Linked DNA regions of Homo sapiens: region 1 is linked to region 2. Evidence: fine-mapped QTL for protein levels in blood plasma. A gene starts in region 2. The other region holds a variant in brackets. All regions are shown on one strand. Distances are from middle to middle.

Region 1 (2,916 bases), 92 kb before region 2:
CATAGCCCACCTTAGATGAATATAAACCTATATGACTGTGTATGATTAAAAAAACTTACAAATGAAGCTCGAATTACTCAGGAAATGGTCCTGGGAAATTGGCTAAGTGAAGGGAAAAATCAAGTTATACCTAAATCAAGTTATACCTATACATTGTACATTAAAAATAATTCTAGTTATATCAACAATTTTAATATTAAAAGTTAAAACCATATAGAAAAACCACAAAACCAGAGGTGAAGATTTTACCAATCTCTGAATGGGAAAAAGATCCAAGCATAAAATTATTAAACAAATTAACAAAATAAATGAAATATTTTATTACAGAGAAACTATACCTACTGTATGAAAAAAAAAAATCTCTTCCAAACATGCTCTTTTAACTTGAGGGACTGTTTCAAACTTGATCAGAAGTCAAGCAGTCTTTTTTGTAAACACACTCTTTATCCCTCAAGATGTTCCCATTTTTACCTCTATATTCTTGCAGAGCTGATAAGCTGAATGCATTTCAGGCATAAAGATAAGGTGTAAAGGGTCAGTCTGGGTAGAGAAGAATGTAAAGATCTGATCTCCACCTGTGCAGAGCCCCTTTCTGGTGTGTTTGATCTGTGTTGAATTCTTGATATCTATTCTCTGGCCTCTGACAGCTGACCAACTGAGAGCTGAGACTGTGTATTATTCCTGCCCCAGACCACTTCCATCATATTTTCCATATTTCTGGTGTACGCCGCAATCAGTGGCGGTTTAGTATATATTGCTGTATAACAAATTATCCTCAAACTCAATAGTCTCAAACAACAAATTTTATTTCTGTGGATCAGAAAGCAGGTCATGGCTTAGGTGGGTCCACTGGCTCAGTGTCTCTTACAGACTGCCACCAGGGTGTCAGCCAGGGCTGCAGTCATGTCCAGGCCCAAGTTGGGGAGGACCCAGTTCAAAGCTGACTCATGTGGTTGTTGGTAGGACTATAGGCAGACCTCAGGTCTTCATCGGTTCTTTACCATGTGGGCCTCTGAATAAGATTGATCACAACATGACGGCTGGCTTCCCCGAGAGTGAGGACTCCAAATGAGAGAGAAAGCAAAAGAGGTCCCTATGTTCTTTTATAACCTAATCTTGGAAGTGACATTCCATCACTCTGCTGTACACTATTGGTTAGAAGTGAGTTACTGAATCCAGCCCATACTTAAAGGGAAAGGTTCACACATGGGTGTCAGTACCAGGAGGTGAGGATGAGTAGGGTCCTCTTAGAGGCTGACAATCACAATAGCTGTGGTCCTCTGAGGGCTCTGCCCCATGCTGTTCCTGGTTCATGGTGCATTCCACAGCTCCAGGCAAGTAGGGAGACCCTGCAGCAGAAACAGCAGGGTTTTTTGAATCATGGATCAGTAACAGAGCATAAACTGGAAGTGGCTGCAGCCTGCTTCGGAAGCGCAGGTACAATGCAATGAGGTAAAATCTCAACACTCCTCTTGCTGACCACATCCCAAAAATGGGCATCTGGGGCCTTGGTGGCATTTCAGAGGAGCAGAGCTGAGCTGAACTGAACTGTACTGTGGTTTGTTCATGATAAAACAGATGG[C/T]ATCAAACAGAACCTGTAGGAAGTGCCAGATTTTAACCATTACTACGGAGACATAGTACTTTGATCTCAGAGTAAATCATTTTTTTCCCAAATAAACTCGTTTGCATTTAGAAAATGAGCCTGGGGTAGTTATTTTTATTTTCGTAAACCCAGAGGAGCAACGTCTACACACATTGGACCTGAAGCCAAAAATTCAAATGTCTTTGGGACCAAGCGAGGGTGAGTTGAGCCAAGTGAGAGAGAAAACAGAGCAGAAGAAACCATGAGGATGCAGAGAGGCAGACCTAAATAAGGCATTCAAATGTAATACAAAGCAAAACACAGTGCATACCAAATAAAATATGGCTGTGAGCTGAATATTGTCTAAAGAGTGCCAAAATGTGAGTCCACAGGCCTAGCAGGAAGAATAAAATTCATAAACCAGATATGTAGCAGATATCCCAGAGACTCCTCAACAGGGCTTTGAGATAGGGCCATTCTTACGCAAATCCAGAAAAGCTACCTGTCTCGCTCAAGGGTAAAGGGAGTTGTGGCTAGAACTGAAGCCTCCTACCTCTGAGTCTAGGACTCTCTGCATAAAAACTTAAAATATTTATATTATTTCTGATCCTGGCACCTCAGCTGATACAACCCTTTCCAAGTAAACCCAGTAATTACAGAGGTGGAGCAGTATAGTTATGAGTCTGCAAGGGACCAAGTGGCTTCCCAGGCAAGTGTGCATACAGGATCCTCACTGTGAATATGCTGGAGCCCAACATAGAGACAGATCTTAGGAAAAGGCTTGCTTTTTGAGGGTTTCTGTAGACCTAAGTCTTGTTGAACAATAGAAATGCCTAAATAGGCTACAAACAGGCCATAATTCCCTACTAAATGACTTACAAGGGCTCAGGGTGGAAGCATACCTAATCTTCATTGCAAAGGGTGACATAGAGGCTAAAACAGACAATCCTGGGCAGTGTGTGGCAGTACTAGGCAGCTTTTCTAACCATCAAGGCTGATACCAGTGCAGTCAATGGGATGTAGCATGCTCAGGAGGAATTTTCATCATTAGCCTTGTTGATTATGGAACACAGCAGTAGCAAATGTAGCTGATACAAAAACTCAGGAGTCAGGCAGATGCAGTTCAAAGTGTTAATTTCTTATCAGAAGACCCAGGATGGGGAAAAAGCACCAATTTTAAAAACAAAGTAATGGCAAAAGTTAGTGGGGTAGCAGGGACCCATACTATTAGGAGAAGGTGAATGTGAGCTCCTAATCTAAAGAGGGGACTAAACATCTAAGTGGGAAAGCTGTTGGAAACTATGCAAGAAGAAGGTCTAATTCTCTGTATGGAA
Region 2 (2,916 bases):
GCAATGTAGTATGCTTGTCAGAGGCACCAAACTGCTAACTCAAAAATAAACATGACTAAAAGAACTTCTCCCAGTATACCCATATGAAGCTGACCATTTGCCCAGTAAGAATGCAATGAAAAGGGCTTTTAATGTACAGCCAAATGGCAGTCCAGCAAGGAAGCTCATGAGCAACCTACAAGTAGTGAGCATTTTGATGTAATAGAGACTTACATGCAATTCAGAATTATGTTTACAACATCACAAAACAAAAATTTAGAGATAGGCTCTCACTCTGTTGCCTAAGCTGGAGTGCAGTGGGATGATCATAACTTACTGCAGCCTTGAACTCCTGGGTTCAACTGAAGGTCCTCCTACCTCAGCCTGCTGAGTAGCTAGGACCACAAGCACACACCACCGCAACTGGCTTAAATTAAAATATAAATTGTAGAGATAGGGTCTTAATGTGTTGCCCAGGCTGCTCTTGAACTCCTTGCTTCAGGTGATCCTCCCACCTCAGCCTCTCAAAGTGCTGGGATTATAGACCTGAGCCACAGCACCTGGCCAACTGACCTATGATTTTACACAATGGCTGCTCTTCCCTTCTTTAACTATTATTCATTCTTCTTTGATCCTCATTATTTGACTGTAGTCCTTCTTATGTCTTGTTTTCCTTCATTACCTCTTATTCTATCACATTGCCATTGTCATTCTCCACTGGGGAAGCTCTTTCTTGCTGAAGACTGGAAAGACAAGTCCATTCACCTGATTTTCTGTAAGATTGTGGCTCATGTATTGACTTGTCAGACAATTCTGAAGTTTCATCAAAATTAGCTATCATGCTTGCATAATGGCCCTGAACCCTCACTCCTACTCTTAGCTTCAGTACCATCTATGTCCTCAACTGTCCATGATACTTATAATTCCCGTAAATCTTCACTTAACACCTAACATTTATTTAATCTTACTAGGCAAGGTAATAAGAAATACATAGGTTTGCCTCCAGAAGTGGGTTCTTAAGAAACCCACCAGAGGAACTCCTCTTTCAGATGTCCACATTAGAAGATTTCATATCACATTTGGTGCCACAGGCCTTTGACAAGGAGGATGCAGAGGAAAAAGCAAACTTCACCTCTTCCTAGGGAAAGTGTTGGCCTGCCAACAGGAAAGAGGCAACATCTGGGAAAATCCCCAGTCTTTGCCAGGAAGAGTCCATGCCAACCCCACCCCATGACCCCTGTCCTGCCTACTCATTGTCACTCTTCACTCCAATGTCCCTCCCCCAGATCCTCTTATAAAATCCCACTCTTTCCTGACCAGACAAACCATACCATATCCCACCAGAGAGGTAAGTGGGAGCTGAGAGAAGATGAGACCCAGGGAGGAGCTACTGCACATGACACAGGAGAATACATGGGAGGGTCCCTTCCTCAGGGAGCACAGGAACTCTGAGACTCAGCAAGGGTGTCCTGGGAGGGCTCGGGGATGGGAGAGTACACAGATTCACAACTCATTCAGAACTGTAGAAGATGATGGATGTGACCAAGATCACTTTAGTCCTAGGGGACTAGAGAAGGAAAATGACATGAGGCAGTGGGGTATCTGTGTGTTCTCCCACTGACCACGCTTTCTTTAGTGACTCCTGATTGCCTCCTCAAGTCGCAGACACTATGCTGCCTCCCATGGCCCTGCCCAGTGTATCTTGGATGCTGCTTTCCTGCCTCATGCTGCTGTCTCAGGTTCAAGGTGAGATTGCTTTGCCTCTAGCACTGGGTTCCCTATGAATCCTCAGAGCTAACAAGAGGAGGAAGGCTCCTGTGTGTCATGTGAGGTAATGACGTGGTGTCTAATGAACCTGCCTGCAGTTCTTGCATCATCTCTCCTTCCTTCAGGTTAACTTGCAGTGGGAGGCTCCATGGTGGTCCACTAACAGTGGAATGAGATGGCTTCCATTTAGTCAGTGGACTCTAATATACACTGGTGGGAAAGTGGACTCTAATATACACTGGAGGGTCAGTAATGAGATGTGGGGAGGGACAATGATTGGAGGACCCAATGTAGAGACAGCCCAGAGTGAGGAGAGTATTGAATGGTTGAATAAGGGGAAAGGGTAATAAGAGACTGGATGGTGCTCCATTTACTACGGCTATTTTGAGATAAAGAATTTCTGAAAACATAAGGGAAGATGAAGGGGTGTCAGGAATGTGGTCTTCCTCCCCAAGGACATTCCTAGGTATTCCCCAAGGTCATCTCCCACCCCAAGCCCCACTCTTCATTTTACCCTCCCCCCTCTTCTTCCACCTCAGGTGAAGAACCCCAGAGGGAACTGCCCTCTGCACGGATCCGCTGTCCCAAAGGCTCCAAGGCCTATGGCTCCCACTGCTATGCCTTGTTTTTGTCACCAAAATCCTGGACAGATGCAGATGTGAGTGGTTAGATGTGGTGTTGGAGGTGACCGGTCTCAGGGGGAGGAGGGTCTCCATTCAGGAGAGTTCCTTGGGAATGAGGATGAACACGTTTATCTTTCACACAGTCCTCCTCCCACCTACCTTTGCCCTGCCCTCCCTCAGCAGGTCTCAGGCTCCCTCTCATTCTCTTTGTTGCCCTCAAAGCTGGCCTGCCAGAAGCGGCCCTCTGGAAACCTGGTGTCTGTGCTCAGTGGGGCTGAGGGATCCTTCGTGTCCTCCCTGGTGAAGAGCATTGGTAACAGCTACTCATACGTCTGGATTGGGCTCCATGACCCCACACAGGTGCCAGTATATCCTCCCCTCTCTGTTACCTCTCAAGGTGCTATTGTTGCCCAGGCCCACTCCCTGTCCCCTGTGCCTGCCCAGGAAGTACTTCAGGGAGCACTGGAGCTCAGATTCTGGGGAATATTTGGGGGGAAAGGGAAGGCCATGAAGCATCTGAAGATCTGAGTTCTGTGGAGGTCTCTAT

Which allele goes with the higher level. Positions count from the first base shown, and alleles are read on the strand shown. Strength reflects both the effect of a copy and how common the allele is.
For the plasma level of the protein whose gene starts at base 1,302 in region 2, C is the low allele of the variant in region 1 and T is the other (weak association).

Evidence for each region. A credible set is the group of variants that fine-mapping cannot tell apart. PIP is the posterior inclusion probability: the model's chance that the variant is causal. The UK Biobank Pharma Proteomics Project read protein levels with antibody pairs (Olink). The fine-mapping took linkage between variants from a reference panel, not from the people measured, so its PIPs are less certain.
Region 1: its variant is the best candidate, but not a certain one, in a credible set for the plasma level of the REG3A protein (UK Biobank, PIP 0.86).

The regions. Positions count from the first base shown.
Region 1 is chr2:79,249,736-79,252,651 of GRCh38, reverse strand. It overlaps a transcript of CTNNA2 not described here. Among named protein-coding and RNA genes, the nearest start is that of REG3A, 91 kb to the right of the region's middle. The variant C/T (reference allele first, on the strand shown) is at 1,583.
Region 2 is chr2:79,158,139-79,161,054 of GRCh38, reverse strand. It overlaps REG3A (regenerating family member 3 alpha), which reads left to right and starts at 1,302. Exons shown (of 6, transcript NM_002580.3): 1 at 1,302-1,327; 2 at 1,616-1,725; 3 at 2,286-2,404; 4 at 2,592-2,729. The coding sequence starts at 1,650.